Regions from separate parts of the Homo sapiens genome. Here region 1 is linked to region 2. The links come from fine-mapping of genetic effects on gene expression. Tissue or cell type: whole blood. Region 2 holds a variant in brackets; the other region holds the start of a gene. All regions are shown on one strand. Distances are between the middles of the regions.

Region 1 (8,000 bases), 130 kb after region 2:
GGGTGTGGAGCCAGGTCAGGGGGAGCCCACTCTGGCTGGCCTGGGGACAGGGCTGGGGTCCCCATCTCGGGTCAACTCCCTGTGCATGAAAGCTTCTCTGCTCTGTGGCCACCATTCCCAGAGGCAGGGCCCTCACTCCCACAGCAGATGAGTGAAAGTGCGTTGTTGCTCTCATCCTGCCACTGTGGAGCCTGGAGGGAGGAGCTGGCACCTCACTGAGGGGGCCGACCCCAGCTCACTGCTCCTACAGACACACCAGGCTGCTGCTCAGTACCCGAAACCTTCCCGCCCCTGTGCCCATCTGTGACTCCCTTTTTTTGCGCCCCACCCCCGACCCCCACCACCCCAGGCTTGAGCCCAGAGCTTACCTGCTGCAGCATAGTACTGGTGACATCGAGGTTGGGCTTGTCTGGGAAAGGCACCACCATGTCGTAGATGTTTTCCCAGCTCTGGGCCCACATGTCTCCTAGATAAGGAAGGAAGGGGACAGCTTGGCTCCCTGCCTGGCTGTGCCTGCTTCTTCATGCATCGCTGAGTGGCACCCTGGGGCCGGCACCTGTACCCTGGGGCCCTCAAGGGCTGCAGGCCTGGCTTAGGGCCAGAAATCTCACACATCAGTCCCACCCACACTCCTCCGAGGGCCACATGTCCTGGGGCTGCAAGATGCTGCCACTGTCATTTCTGGCTGTGCCAGGCCCCAGCCACTCAATCCTGAGGCAGGGCCACAGTGCTTGTTTCCTTGGGCATGAGCTAGGCTGATGGCTCCCCCACTGGACCCAGGGCCAGAGCCTTTGGTTTGGCCCCTAGCTCTCTGACCACTAAGTCCCTCACGACCCTAAGCCTCAGGGTCCCCACCTGTAAAGTGGGAACACGAATGGTCTCCTGCATGTGAAGCAAACAGTATGATGCCCCACACATGTGAGATGTGAGGGTCACAACCCACCTTCCCTTACCCTGGACATCCCCCACCCCTACCTCGGGACCCACACTTCCGTGGGACTCATGTGGAGGCGAGGCCAGGTCCTTACCCAGCAGATGAGCAGGGATGGGTCCCCTGAGGTTGATGTATCTGTCTCCGTATCGGCGATGCAGTGCGCGGCGGACGAAGGCATGGAGGTTCAGGTAGAGGGGCTCTAGCTGTTGGTAGAGGTGTTCCAGATCGTCCTCGAAGGTGGGGGAGTTGTACCAGGAGCGCCAGTAGGCCCCCGTGTCTGTGAAGCCTGGGGGCGTGGGGGTGAGGTATGTAGCTCAGGCCAAAGGCTCGGACCTCAGCCTCTCAGCTGTAAGTCGGCTCTTCCACTGGCTCGAGGCCCGTGGATCTGCAGCTAGCTGGAAAATTGGCTTGGGGGTTGCCACTCTACAATTTCTAATTAGCTACAGCCAGCTAAACAGATCCTGGAGGTTCCCAGAGGCAAAGAGGAGCATCAGGGCCAGGAGTGACAGCAGGATGGCCACGTGGGGCAGGCCAGCAGCAAAGTCCAGGCACACTGGGTGCAGGCCGGTCCCACCTCCACTTTCTGGGAAACTCAGGGCCTGCTGGAATTGTCATACCAGCTGCTCTGCCTGACTCTGGGCTGGGACTCTGGGGAGACAGCTGAGAGAGGACACCTGGCGTGGTTCCTGGACAGGGAGAGGCCTGCTCACCGTCCTGCTTGTAGGCTTCATTGCTGAGGGCAGTGAAATCCTCGTACAGCGGTTTCAGCGGGATGCCCGCAGCGTTGTGCCAGCCCTCCCAGGCAAACAGGAGCATGGCGTAGCTTCGCGAGGAAGCCAGGATGTTGGTGAGATCTGAGACACAGGCAGGCAGGGTCGGTGAGGAGGCCTCCACGTTGAAGTCTTCAACGGCCTTCACCAGAGCCTGCACCAGTCCTTACTGCTCCCACCAGCTTCCTGAACATCACGGTGCCCCCAGAGACAGGGGCCACCTACAGGCCTGGTGGGAGGGGGCTGGGAGCTACAGAAACACCCAGGCAGGGCCCCTGCCCCAGAGACATGACCACCTAAGGTGGCTGACACCAAGGGGACACCCAAAGGCCAAAACCCAGACAGACACTTAGCGGCCTATTGGATGGAGTGCCTTCCTCGAAGCTGCTCATAAAGGGGGCTGGAGCGGGGTTTAAGGGGAAGCCACGAGGGGTCCCTGGCCTGAGGGCTCTTGGGGAACATGAGAGGACCCACGAAAGGGGAAACCAGGCAGCCAGGAGGAAGGCCTAGGGGTGATGGGAGAGGCCGAGGTACACACAGAAGTGGGGGCTGCAGCTGGAGATTCCGGAAGTCCACTTGCCAAGAGAAGCAGGGCGTGGGGGTATCTGCACCGTCCAGCCCCAGTTGGAGGGCAACACCTTTGGGTTTACCTGCTGTCTCCACAGACCCTACACAACTGCATGGTCTGGAGTGCAGCAGGGCAATGTGGGAACACTAGGGCACCGCCGAGAGGGGAGCTGCAAGGGCCGTACCTGGGTCCAGGGACCAGCAGGTGGCAGTCTTGTTGGGGAGGCAGACCTTGGCGGTGGAGTAGATCCTGCTCATGTTGCTTAGCAGGGCGTTGTACTGGGGAGTCAGAGGGGAGGAATGCTCCAGTGACCAGCCCCTGGGACATCTGCCCTCCCCTCGCTGCTAGAAGGAGGAGCCCACAGAGTGGATGTAGCTTGGACAAGGCCACTCAGTGGCACCGGGGCACTTCTGATCACTAAGTGTCACTTAGTGTGACCGGATCACTTCTGAGTCCCCTGCCAGTGGAGGCAGCCTGTGGAGTGGGGGACAGGAGTCCTGAAAGTCAGGGTCAGGGTCAAGTCCCAGCTTGGCACCACCCTGCAGTGAGGGCAGATCCCTCCCATTCTCTGGCTTTGGTGACTTCCCAGTCTTTCTCAACCTTTTCTCTCTCTCTTTTTTTTGGGGGGAGGTCTCACTCTGTCACGCAGGCTGGGGTGCAGTAGTGCAATCACAGCTCACTGTAGCCTTGACCTCCTGGGCTCAGGTGATCCTTCCCCCTCAGTTTCAAGAGTAGCTGGGACTGTAGGTGCACGCACCACCAAGCCCAGCTATTTTTTTTTTGTAGAGACGAGGTTTTGCCATGTTGGCCAGGCTGGTCTTGAACTCCTGGGCTCAAGCGATGCGCCCACCTCAGCCTCCCAAAGTGCTGGGATTACAGGCTTGAGCCACCACGCCCAGCCCTTCTCAACTCTTCCAAAGAAGCTCATAAACCAGCCTAGGGAGAAGTGTATTTGAATTTGGCTTCCTACTCCAGAATGCTTCCTTTAACAGAAAGTAACTCCCCACCCCATCTCCAAGAAAAATCAATGCTCAGAAAGCCATTCTGTGCTTACCTGGGCTTTCCCTTCTGTCAGGGCCCATGTGGATCCCAGGGTTCCTCCCTCCCTGATGGGCTGCTCTCCCCCGACCCCCACGATGGGGCACTAGGAGGCCGCCCCCGAGCTCTGCCTCAGCCCTCAGCCCACCTGCTGCCGCTTAGCCAGGGGCAGGTTGGCAGAGCCCAGGGTGCGCACAGCTCCGATGATCCTGCGCAGCTGCGGGTCCGTGAAGTTCTGCCAGATCGGTTCATACAGCTCCTTGGCCTTCTGGCCCCAGGCCTCCGCAAACTCCTGGCTGAGCAGGGCTGCTTCCTCCTATTGGGCACCAGGAGGGCAGGGAGGGTGTAGGACCCTGCTTAGATGCAGGCCATAAAGGAGAAGCCACGGTGCTGGGGGAGGGGAGGAAGGCCAAGGGCTTCCAGAGCCCGGGCCCTGGGGAGATCCCTGCGGGAGACCTTAGTTTGCGGAAGCCGCGCTTCCTCCTTCTGGAGGGAATCTGCCTCATGGGAATGGTGGAGCAGAAATTGGGACCAGAAAAGAGGCCGGGCGAGTGGAGGGTGGATGGACAGTGCAGTGCGGTGACGGTGACAGCGACAGCGTCCGGAGGTGAGAAGGCAGCTGCCCGAGAGCGCGGGGGCCCCAGAGCCAAGCCCAGCACCTTCGGCGAAGGCGGGCGCGGCCTGGGAGCAGCCACCCTCATCCATCCAACTCGTGCATGCTGGGAGCGCAGGCCGTGCGCGCAGCCCGGCGCTCGGGCCCCGCGGCTGACTGTCGGGGCGAGGGTCCGGGGTCGGGGTGGGGTTCGGGTCGGGGGCGCCAGCCTGCCCGCCCCACAAGCCGGCCGCGTGCTGTGATTGGCCGCCGCGGCCCCGCCCCGCCCCCGCCCGGGCCCGGGCGCCCACCTGGCGCCTTGCATTCTCCGCGGTGATGTTGGTGTCGTGCGCCCAGCTGGCGGCCACGCTCTGGAACAGCACCTGTTCGGCGCTGGAGTTGTAGCTCTGCGCGAAGAGCTGCGCCCCGGCCTCGTCAGCAGAAAAGTTGCCGGGCTGCAGCCCGGGGTCCAACGCCAGGGCGGGCTGCGGCGGCAGCAGCAACAGCAGCGGCAGCGGCAGCAGCAGCCCCGGCCCCCGGCGGCCCGAGGCGGCCCCCATGACGCGGTGCGCGGTGCTCGGCTCTGCCCCTTCTCCTGCGCCGCGGCCGCCCTGCGGGTTATAAAACCCGACACACCCCCGCCCCCGCCCCGCCGCGCTTCCTCCTCCGCTCCAGAGTCCCCAGCGGCGCGGGCCGAGGTTCCTGGCCCGCCCCGGGCAGGGGCGCGGGCCGGGGAGGGGCCGAGGTGCAGCCCGGGGGTGGCGGGATGGGGCTGGGTCGGGCTCCCGCAGAGGAAGCTGGAGAAAGGGCCTCCTCTCTTTAGAAGATGGGGACCCGGCAGTTTGCCGGAACACCCGAGCCTGCCCACCGTGCGGCCGCGCAGCCTCGGCCGGGGCCTGGGAGCCTAGCGGCCTCCGGCTCGATCTTCCCAGCCCGACCCCCCGGAGCCTCCCGCCTCCGGAGTGACAAGGCCGGGGCCCCAGGAGCTGTCCGCAGGCGCCGCTCGTGCGGCGGGGATGGGGCTGATCGGGCCTGGCCGGCTTCTTCACCAGGCCATGGTCGAGGGGCGGGGACGTCGCCTGCCGGGGGTAGGGGTGTGGCGGGGGGGAGAGGAGGGAGGCGGGGACCTTAGGTGTCTTGCAGGCGCCTCCGGGAGGTGCTGGAGGGGCTCAGGGCGGCCGGCACACCTGGGGCTTGGGGCTGCGAGGGAGGGGGAGCCACAGAGCGCAGGAGCTTTGGAGCGCCTGCCCTCTTTCCCCCCGAGGACACAGGCTGCCAGTCGCTCAGCAGAAAACATCACACACGATCCCAACAGAGTCCTAGAACCCGAGGCTAGCAGGCTTTGAGAGCGACACAAAGCCTCAGAGATGAGAACAACCCCCTCATTTTACAGATGAAGAAATTGCCGCTCAGGTTGAGAGGCTTGCTCCAAGTCACCTCAGGTCTCCACACTCCCCTGTGTTTTCCTGTCTCATCCACGTGTCCCTCAAAGTGACAAGTGTGGGGGAGGGAGGACAGTCTTGTCCTATTGGCGCACAGGGCGGTTGTGGAGGCCACCTCGGCACCATGGCGTCTGCTGCCAGAGGGGGGAAGCCCCTTGACCCTGGCAGAGGCCCGGCGGCGCAGTGGGAGGTGGGGCAATGGAGGAACCGTGGGGTGAGGCTGGGCGGTGGGATCAGGGAAGGAGCCAGGGACAGCTGCTCCCAAGACCCCAACCCATTAGGCTGCTGGGGGCTGTTGGGAATCACTTGGGCTTCTGGGTGAGTGGGGGATGGTGTCTGGGGCTCTGAGGGACACGTGCACCTTGCTGTGCAGCATGGAGTGTGTGCAGGAGGCTGTGACCCCGCGTTCCTGTGAGATGCACCTCCAGTGAGATCGCACTGACTTGTCAGATGACGTGTTGCAGGGGAGAGGGGGCGGTGGGGAGAGGAAGAAGGTGGCTGTCCCTAGCACTAGAGGGAGAAGGCAGGGCCTTGTTAAACACTGGCCGGCAGTGGGGCCGGGAGAGGAGAGCTGGGGTCAGGCCTGGCCCTGGCCCGCTTTGCCAGCCTCCCTCCTGACCTGCAGTTTTCCCTCACAACTCCTCCCTGCCCAGTTTGGCTTGGAGAGCCAGTGGATACCAGAGGACATGGGTGCACTTCTGGGCCGGCTACGTTGGTGGACGTTTGTGATCAGAGCAGCCCCATCGAAGGCCAGGGGCCAGGGAGGGCAAGGTGGTGGCCTGGGCTCTCCTCCCAGGAGCCACCCTGCTCTCAGGGGTCCTAACAGCTTGGCCTTCCAGGCTTTGAGGGCTGTGGGTGTCTGTGTGCAAATGAGCTGCTGTCTCCTGGGAGGAAGCAGTCTTTCTGTGGAAAGAGGCTTGGGTGGGGAAGAGATGAGAGTGGGGCTCTGTCAGCCTCTGAAGGAGGGGCCAAGGGAGGAGAGATGAGTAGAGAGGAGAAGAGCCTGAGGCCTAACCTGTATCCAGAGGCCCTCAGCCAGAGGCTGGCCTCGCCTCCAAAGAGTTCCTGAGAACCCTCTTCAGGAGGGTGGAGGGCGGGCATTGCTTCTGCTGGTTCATTCTCCCGTCTGACTCCAAGGCATTTCCACAATGTCTATAGACCCTGGGTTAGGGACTGTGTCAGCAATAAACAGCCTCCGCCTCCACTTCCGACAGGGTTGGAAGATAATGGAAGTCTTCCCCTGGACCTGGAGCAGCTGACACCAGGGCTGCTGGAGGCATCACCCTGCACCTCCCTCACTGTAACGCTTTATTAGAATGGCTTGTTAAATCCCCCAGCTTCATCACTAAATTGTATGTTACTGGAGGGCAGGGATGGCGTCTGCCTTGTTCTCTGTGGTTTTCTCAGAGTTTAGCATGGTGCCTAGCACAGGGCAAAACCTCATCGAAGGAAGGGTGCAGAGGAAAGAGGAAATGACCCACACTCGTATTCACACTCCGGGGGGTGAGCACACAGCCTTTTGCAGGAATAATATAAGAAGAGCCAGACTTCATTAATTTGGAATTTGCAATAATACAGACACTGCAACCTTGAGCCCAGTGAGTAAAAATTAAAAATATCTTCTATTTTTAGGGTCTTATTCATGAAGGAGAAGGATAAATAGAAATAAATAGCTTACATTTGTATAGTGCTTTAGTGCTAAATTCTTGTGTATAAACAATCTAATTTGGTATTTACAATAACCTTGAAAGGTAGGAAAGAGATAAGGCTGTCTGGGCAGTCAGCCACCTCCTCGGCTGCCGTCACAACAAAGGAGAAGGCTCAAATCCTGCAGGAGGATATCATTATGAATAGGCCAGTGCAGAGAGCCACAGAGACCTGACCCACGTGAGGTAACTCAGTTGGCTTGGGAATCTTTTCATCTCTCTTCCAGGAAGTACAGGTCACCAGTTACCACAGGAGAGAAAAACAGCCCTTAAAAATATGCTCAACAATGGAATAGAATTGAGAGTCCAGAAATGAACCCATACAATTATGTTCAATTGTTTTTGACAAGAACACTAGGACAATTAAATGGGAAAGAAAATATTTTTAACAAATGGTGCTGGGGCAATTGGATTTCCACATGTAAAAGAATGAAGTTGGACCCCTTTCTAATACCATATACAAAATTTGGGGCTGGGTGCAGTGGCTCATGCCTATAATCCCAGAACTTTGGGAAGCTGAGGTGGGCGGATCACTGGAGCTTAGGAGTTTGAGACCAGTCTGGGCAATATGGTGAAACCCTATCTCTACAAAAAAATTAGCTGGGCATGGTTGCGCATGTCTATAATACCAGCTACTTGGGAGGCTGAAGTGGGAGGATTGCTTGAGGCCAAGAGGTTGAGGCTGCAGTGAGCCATGATTGTGCCTCTGCACTCCAGCCTGGGTGACAGAGTAAGACCCTGTCTCAAAACAAAAAACAAAAAACAAAACAAAAGACTTAAAATAGACCTTGATGTAAGAACTAAAATCATAAAACTTTTAGAAGAAAACATAGGCAATAAATCTTTGTGACCTTGGATTAGTCAATGGTTTCTTAGATATGACACCAAAAGCATAAGTGATGAAAGAAAAAACAGATAAATTGGTCTTCATCAAAATTTAAAACTTTTGT
Region 2 (8,257 bases):
GCTGACAAAGACCCTGTTACACACACACACACACAAAAAAAAGAAAAGAAAAGAAAGAAAGAAAGGAAAGGAAAAGGAAAAGAAAAAGAGTATTGTGGATCTATCATCGCATTCCCTTTTGCCAGACTTATTTTCTGTGAAGAGAATGTCTCCAGAAGTGTCTTTGGGGATTCAAATAAGTCTGGGAATTGGGGGCTCTTCGAGTTTGAAAATTTATTGACTGCTATAAGTTTCAGAGAAAAAAAAGTAACTCAACCACATGGCTGAATTTCCACAGTTGGTTGGAGGCACAGCCTTTGCTGTTCCTCTTGGATTCAGCCAGGGCCTCTAGCAGAGGGGAGGTGGCTACGCACAAGAGTGCTTCTTATAACAGTCAAGACTGTGAACAGAGCCTATCACAGATACTTCTGTCCCACTAAAAGGACACTTGAAGGTAAGCCCAAGGTGGCTTCAAGACCTTGAATAATTTTATGTTGCTAAGACAATAACCAAAGATAAGGCAAAGCAAGCCAAGCCAGCACTGGACCTCATTCCTCTGACTTTAACATGCATCTGACTCCCAGACTCTCAGATGCTGTGAGACTAGCTTTTGGTTTTTTTTTAATTATGTCACCTGATAAAAGTAAAACATGGGGGCTGGGCACAGTGGCTCACACCTATAATCCCAGCACTTTGGGAGGCTGAGGCAAGAGGATCCCTAGGAGCCAGGAATTCAAAACCAGCCTTACACAGGAAGACCCCATCTCTCTCTCTCTCTTTTTTTTCTTTTTTCGGTGAGACGGAGTCTTGCTCTGTCGCCCAGGCTGGAGTGCAGTGGTGCGATCTTGGCTCACTGCAACTTCCGCCTCCTGGGTTCAAATGACTCTCCTGCCTCAGCTTCCCAAGTAGCTGGGATTACAGGCGCCCGCCACCACGCCCAGCCAATTTTTATATTTTTAGTAGAGACGGGGTTTCACCACATTGGCCAGGCTGGTCTCGAACTCCTGACCTTATGATCCACACACATCGGCCTCCCAAAGTGCTGGGATTACAGGCGTGAGCCACCGCGCCCGGCCGGGAAGACACCATCTCTTAAGAAAAGAAAAGAAAGAAAGAAAAAAGGAAAACATGATTACAGAATATAAAGCTCAGTAATAACATCACTACCCTGAGATAACCTGTTTTGATATTTTAGTACATTTCCTTCTAGTCTTTTTTAAAAAGTTCATATATATAATATGTTAAATAAATATATACATATCTATTTCAAAATTTGGACCACACTATACATGTAGTTTTGTATCTTTTTTCCCACTTAATGTTATATTCTAAACATTTTCTCTGACAAAAGATTCTTTAAAAAATAATTTTTAGTGGCAACATAATACCTTGGCATATGGATGTAACCATCTTTAATGTTTTTTTTTTGAGACGGAGTCTCGCTCTTGTGCCCCAGGCTGGAGTGCAATGGTGTGATCTCGGCTCACTGCAACCTCCACCTCCCGGGTTCAAGTGATTCTCCTGCCTCAGCCTCCTGAGTAGCTGGGACTACAGGCGCCTGCCACCATGCCTGGCTAATTTTTGTATTTTTAGTAGAGACGGGGTTTCACCATGTTGGCCAGGCTAGTCTCGAATTCCTGACCTCAGGTAATCCACCCGCCTCGGCTTCCCAAAGTGCTGGGATTACAAGCGGGAGCCACCGCACCCGGCCGTGACCATCTTTATTTGAATAGCTCAGGGTCTCTTTTCCAGATCTAGAGACAGCAGAACAAATTCAAGAAGGGTTCATTTCTGCCTTTCCTATTAACTGCAGGAGAGAGACTGCAGGGCACCACTAGGGGTCAGTGCAGAGCCATCATCACAGGAGCCTTTACTGTGCCTTACAGTAAGCATGTCTTGATGTAAGATAATTGGTTATGCAACAATCCATATTAATAAAGATTCTATATGCTACATTAGAGATCTATTCACATGACTAGCCATGTTCCCTTTAAGAGCAGACTCCCTTAGTACAGATTTCTCAGATTATAAATAAGATTCCTCCAAATTAATTTCCAAAACAGAGCTATTTTATAAACACCAAGGTCTATCAGTGTAAGACCTGTTCTTTCCTGCTTGGTATGAGATCATTTGTGCATAAAATACTTGGCCAAAGTGTTTTATAGGTTTGTTGGGAAAATCAAATAAATAACATGTAAACGTATCTTACAAATTATGAAGCCACATATAAACGTAAATTTGCTCTTTTTTAATGATAAGCAATTCAGATATTTGGGCAAGTGGCATGACCATGGATTATTTCACTGGTTTTCTTCCTCGTAGCCCTTGCTCTCCAGCTATTGACATCAGTGTGGAGTCAGTAATTCTTTTCTTAGAAGCTGAAGTTATCATTTACAGTAAATTTGGTTTTAGTTCTTTGTCATCCTTATTTACCTGAAGCTCCTTCAGGAAAATTACTCTGAGCTCAGAATTAGCTTAGATAACTTATAAATAGGTGTATAACAGGGATCAGAAAGCCACTCTAGGCCTGACATGCTTGACAGGCTCTGACGCAGGAGGTGGGAGTTCCTGGCCCTTCTAAACACAGATGTGACTATTAGGAGCAAAAGGTACCAAGGGCCCTATTTCCCACTGGCGAGGCTTCTTATTCAGCCCTCACTCTTCTTTCTGTTCACGTTTCCTCTTCAGTTCTCAGTGCCACATCATTTGGCATCAGAGATGAAAAGGATCTAGGGCTGGTTGTTCTCAGAACCAAGAAGCTTTCAAAACCAGCTTGTGGTAGCCCTTCTTGAGAGCAGCTCAGTCTTCTCATTGGTTCACTCTGACCAATCCCAGGATGCATAGGGACCCAGGCAAAGCAGGCCCTAGTAAGTCCCTTTTTTTTTTTTTGAAAGACAGAGGCTGGGCGCCATGGCTCATGCCTGTAATCCCAGCACTTTGGGAGGCCAAGATGGACGGATCACCTAAGGTCAGGAGTTCGAGACCAGCCTGGCCAACATGGCCAAACCTGGTCTCTACTAAAGATACAAAAATTAGCCGGGGTGGCACGGTGCAGGGCGGTATGGGGACGCCATGGCAGAGCTGCAGCAGCTGTGGGTGCAGGAGGTGGTGGACTCCATGGTGAAGAGTCTGGAGAGAGAGAACATCTGGAAGATGCAGGGTCTCATGTTCCGGTGCAGCACCAGCTGTTGTGAGGACAGCCAGGCCTCCATGCAGTAGGTGCACCAGTACATCAAAGCACTGCCATGTGCCTCTGGCTCAAGCCCGGGCTTTGCTCACCAGTGAGTTGGAGAAGTTCCGGCACCACCTGGCCCGGTGCGCCATGCATTGCAACAACAAAGCCAAAGATTCAATGGATACTGGGAGTAAGGAGCTTCAGGTGAAGCAGCAGCTGGACGGTTGTGTGACCAAGTGTGTGGATGACCACACGCACCTCATCCCAACTATGGCCAAGAAGATGAAGGAGGCTCTCTTATCCATTGGGAAATAACAGTCTTTGCCAGTGGCCACTGGGGCTGAGGGCAAGAATATATTTTTTATAAGGAATTGGGAATTTTAGTCTTTTAAGCAAAGTTTATGAAGAAATGAAGGATGGCCACAAGTGTAAGACATATGTCACTTGCCTCTGGACACTGGTTCTTTTATGTTTCAGTCCTAAAAAATGAAATGGAAAAAAGTGGTGCTAAATTGGGTCAGAGATATTACAGGAGAGTTTTAGAGCTTATATATCCTATGGCCAGTGCTTGTCCTGCCAGTAAGGATCTCCCCTGTAACAAGCCAGAGCCCTCCAAGGCACTAAACTCTTCTTATTACACAGGTACCAACAGGCTGGCAGGTTAGAGTTGGTGGAGTTTGAGGAGAGATATTTTCTCTTTGTTGCCAACATCCTGTTTACCAGAAGTGTCACCACACC[A/T]TTTTCCGTAAGCTGTGAAACAAAATCCATGAGGTCACCCGCTTAGAAGGGCAAAAAAGTTTTCTGGGTCTTTGTTTTCTTGGTTTTGTGTAATTTATACAAGGCGATACAAATTGATTTTAAGATGTGGAATTGGGAGGGAGACTAGTTTGGATAAGAACTTTGAAAGTTTCCTTGAGGATCCCCATTTCTGGTCATCAAGATGTAGATGTAGATTTCTTAAAATTATTACATGCTGCATCTTTCAGCCTGGAGACCATGCAAAAACATGAGAGGTGATGACATACTAATTATGGGAAGCATAATTACTGGCTGATGGGCCGAGGCTGTGTGTAGCAAAATGACAGGACAATCTTGCAGTAACACTTTCCCGGTGAAGAGAAGGGGGTTTTGATTGTGATATATACTAGTATCTAGAAATGAACAGTAAAAGAAGAGCAGTTGGCTACTTGATTATAACAGAGTTATGAAGTACTGGATTTGGAAAAACCTGGTTTTTATAGAACGGATGGAATGAAAGCCTAAACCTAGCACTGCCTACTTAGCCCCCTGAATTAACAAAGCACAATTGAGACAAACCCTGGCAACAGGAAATCCAAGGAAGAAAAAGTAAGCAACTTGGGCTAGGATGAGCTGACTCCCTTATAGCAAAGGAGAGGCAGACCCCAGTACCAAAAACCATTTTTGCCTGGGGCTTTCGCAACTTGCAGTGTTCCTGCCCCGGCATGGCACGTTATTGTTTTGATAGCAACCTCATTGTATTTTCATCAACTTACTACTTGAAATGATAATATAGCCTGTCCATTTGCTGCTTCCAGGCTGTGTTATATTTTCCCGGTGGTTTGCTTTTAAAAATAAATAAAGTTTAATTTTCTCCCCTCCCCCTCCACAAAAAAATTAGCCGGGCATGGTGGTGCCTGCTTGTAATCCCAGCTACTTGGGAGGCTGAAGGAGGAGAATCACTTGAACCTGGGAGGTGGAGGTTGCAGTGAGCCAAGATCATGCTACTGCACTCCAGCCTGGGCCACAGAGCAAGACTCTGTCTCAAAAAAAAAAGAGACAGACTCAGCCGGGCGTGGTGGCTCATGCCTGTAATCCCAGCACTTTGGGAGGCCGAGTGTGCAGACCACTTGAGCTCAGGAGCTCGACACCAACCTGGACAACATAGTGAAACCCCATCTCTACAAAAATATATATAAATTAGCTGGGCGTGGTGGCATGCACCTGTAGTTCTAGCTACTTGGGAGGCTGAGGTGGAAGGACTGCTTGAGTCCAGGAGGTCAAGGCTGCAATGAGCTGAGATTGTGCCACTGCTCTCCAGCCTGGGCAACAGAGTGAGACTCTGCCTCAAAAAAAAAAAAAAAAAAAAAAAAAAGAAGAGTTCTCACTCTGTCACCCAAGCTGGAATGCAATGGTGCAATCATAGCTCACTGTAGCCTTAGACTCCTGGGCTCAAGTGATCCTCCCGCCTCAGCCTCTCGAGTAGATGGGATTATAGGTGTGAGCCACTGCCAAGTCCCTTATCACTGGCACTTGATTTCCTACTGGGCTAGAACCTTAAGCTGTTTGGTGAAAGAAGGGCACAGAAGTCACACAAAGAGAGCAACAGATGCTTGCACAGCAGCTCACACTGCCCTGGGACAGCTCCAGTAAAGAGCAGTCCTGTGTTCAGGTCCTACCTTCTAGAGCAGGATCTAACACAGGACACCAGTTGAATAGCTTATGCTCTAGATAAGTACAGTTCTTGGTATATAGCTAGTGTTCCAGAAATATTAGTTGCATGAATGAATGACAGGTTTAGGCTGTAAGACCAGCATCAGACCATGGAGTGCCTGGATACAACTACATTTCTATGGCCAATTAAAAAAATAATCCTGGGATTGGAGTAGTAGAGCTAAGCCTAGGGACTTGAAAGTTAGTCCAGAGGATCCCAACAGCTGGACACAAACTCAGGAAGACTCAAGAGCCATACAACAGCAATGCAGCAACCAATAATCACCGTTATTATTAAGAGCAGTTTCTAGTACAGAGCGCCTCAGGGCACTTACAATCCCCACAGAGGCCAGCTACCCAACATCAGAGTCTGACCAGCTGGGTGGTCCTGCCCTGCATCCGAGAGGGTGTCGGGACACTCATCCAGATGGCTCTGAGACAGCAGCAGAGCTGACAAGGAGGCCCCACAAGTGAGATTCCTTTGGCTTCAAGGTCGCAAGTCCTGTCCTTGGGCCTCCTGGCCTGCTGAGCCTCCCACCGGCTTTACCCTCAGAGATTGCTGCAGAAGCCTGTGTGCTGGAATGGGCTGCCACATTTCTAGGAAGGAACCCGGGGGCACATGTAGCCTGGTTATTCAATGTTATCATAGACGTGAATCACATCCTCGTGGTTGCTGAGAGCCTGAATGAGATGTGCGGCCTGTTCCAGGTCGGGCTCAGCCAGCTGCACCTTTGAGTTGGGGATGAACTCTAGTGCACAGGACACAGAACACAGGCCCAGGGAGTCCAGCTTCTTCCTCACTTGGTGCAGTGAAGAGGCATCACAAATAAACTAGGGATAAAGGAAAGTCAGGAGGTGAGGAGCCAGGAGGTAATGAGACAAAGCCACACAGGACCTTGCAAAGTCCTGAATGTCAGTACTGGAATGGATCACTGGGTTTGAGCTCTTCACTGGCAGGGACATCGTTTTCAATGTTTTGACTCTTTCTTTCTCATAGTCCTCACTAGAGTCGGTCCTATTCAGTATTCACTTAATAAATGTTTGTACAATATGTGAACTGTCTCACCTATACCCTGGGGCACATGAAGGAAGAAACCAAGAGGCATGCATAAGGCATCTATCAGGGTCCTCCCGGAAGCCCACCAAACACCCATGTTTTCATGCTTACTTTAAAAACGTTCCTTTCTTCTTCATCTTCAGTTTCCTTGACATCCTCAGCTCCTGCTTCGATTGCCATCTCCAGGGCACGCTCTAGGTTCACAGCCTTCTTCTCTCTGTCCTCCACTTCAACCACAATCACCCCCTTTTTGTCAAAAGAGTGACGAGCTCCTACAGCCATCACTCCTCTGACAGGGAAGGAAACAGGCTGGCATGAGTGGATGCCTCTAGAAGCTCAGCCTCCATAAAGCTCATCATTCTATCACTGTCTCTTTCTTACCCAGTCTATGAAGTACACACAGACATGGAGCAGATCGCATCCTCAAGGAGAAAATGCAGCTGCTGCTGGGTAAGGGAACAGCCCAAGAATGTCCCCACGCTCGATTTTCTGCCCTGATTGCAGTTGGGAGGAAGCAGACTTAGCTGATAATTTCCTGTGCCATTAAGATGCCAGTCCTGGTGGAGCATTTTAAGACTTAGGCATTATATGGCTACAGATGGGGATAATAGGACAAAGATCCCCTTCTACATCCGATGAACAAGTCTTTGGGATCCTGCTAGTAGAAACTACATTAAGGGAAAGTCAATTAACTCATTAGATTCTGCTAAGGAGCAAGTGTGCTTAAAACCTGAAACATGGCCAGGCATGGTGGCTCCCAGCACTTTGGGAGGCTGAGGCAGGTGGATCACCTGAGATCAGGAGTTCGAGACCAGTCTGGCCAACATGATGAAACCCTGTCACCTCTACTAAAAATACAAAAATTAGCTGGGCATGGCTGTGGGTATCTTTAATCCCAGCTACTCAGGAGGCTGAGGCAGGAGAATCACTTGAACCCAGAAAGCAGAGGTTGCAGTGAGCCAAGATCATGCCATTGCACTCCAGCCTGGGCGACAAGAGTGAGACTCCGTCTCAAAAAACAAAAAAACAAAAAACAAAACCCTGAAACACTAGCAGAGATCAACAGTACTTGCCTTGCAGAGAATTGGAACATAAAGGCTCTGTCCCCTACCACTCCTCCCAGACGCACACTTACCCATTCTTATTCAGGATATGTCTAATGTCTGCTTGGCACTTGTGGCTACTGTTAGATAATGCCTCGATGAGCAGAGAAGAGCCACCAGGGCCTCGACCCTCATACAGCAAATAAGTGTCCTTGGATTTCTGCAATAAACAACACAAGCACATTTTCCTGTTTCCCAATTCCTTCCCACATGTCAGCCCAGAACTACAAGTATCGCAAAACTAACTCCATGGGATGGGCTCTCTAGGCTGGAGCCTGAGCTCTCAATCTTTATTTTTGTCCCCACCCTCTAACCAACTTTTGAGGTAACAGGAAGTACTACCCCTAACTTGGAAGGAGTCTGTTTCTCCGGTCCCTGAACAATCCATCAGCCATCTCTCAGCTTTGCTTCCTACCATCCCTAACCAAATGCCACATCTAGTCCCTACCCAATCCCACTCAGACTCATCCTCCTACACCCCCATCCTGTAAG

The links. PIP is the estimated chance that this variant, and not a neighbour inherited with it, causes the effect.
Region 1: it holds the start of ACE, and the variant in region 2 is fine-mapped to the expression of ACE in whole blood (TOPMed, PIP above 0.99). The same link has a PIP of 0.9 or more in blood mononuclear cells.

The regions. Positions count from the first base shown.
Region 1 is chr17:63,473,557-63,481,556 of GRCh38, reverse strand. It overlaps ACE (angiotensin I converting enzyme), which reads right to left and starts at 4,496. Exons shown (of 25, transcript NM_000789.4): 1 at 4,214-4,496; 2 at 3,459-3,626; 3 at 2,457-2,550; 4 at 1,645-1,788; 5 at 1,029-1,220; 6 at 369-466. The coding sequence starts at 4,462. RefSeq lists silencers at 3,987-4,046, 4,147-4,236.
Region 2 is chr17:63,605,981-63,614,237 of GRCh38, reverse strand. It overlaps TACO1 (translational activator of cytochrome c oxidase I), which reads right to left. Exons shown (of 5, transcript NM_016360.4): 3 at 7,798-7,925; 4 at 6,774-6,951; 5 at 5,873-6,436. The coding sequence ends at 6,236. It also overlaps the pseudogene FAM136DP. Among named protein-coding and RNA genes, the nearest start is that of TACO1, 9.2 kb to the right of the region's middle. RefSeq lists enhancers at 2,631-3,131, 3,132-3,632. The variant A/T (reference allele first, on the strand shown) is at 3,893.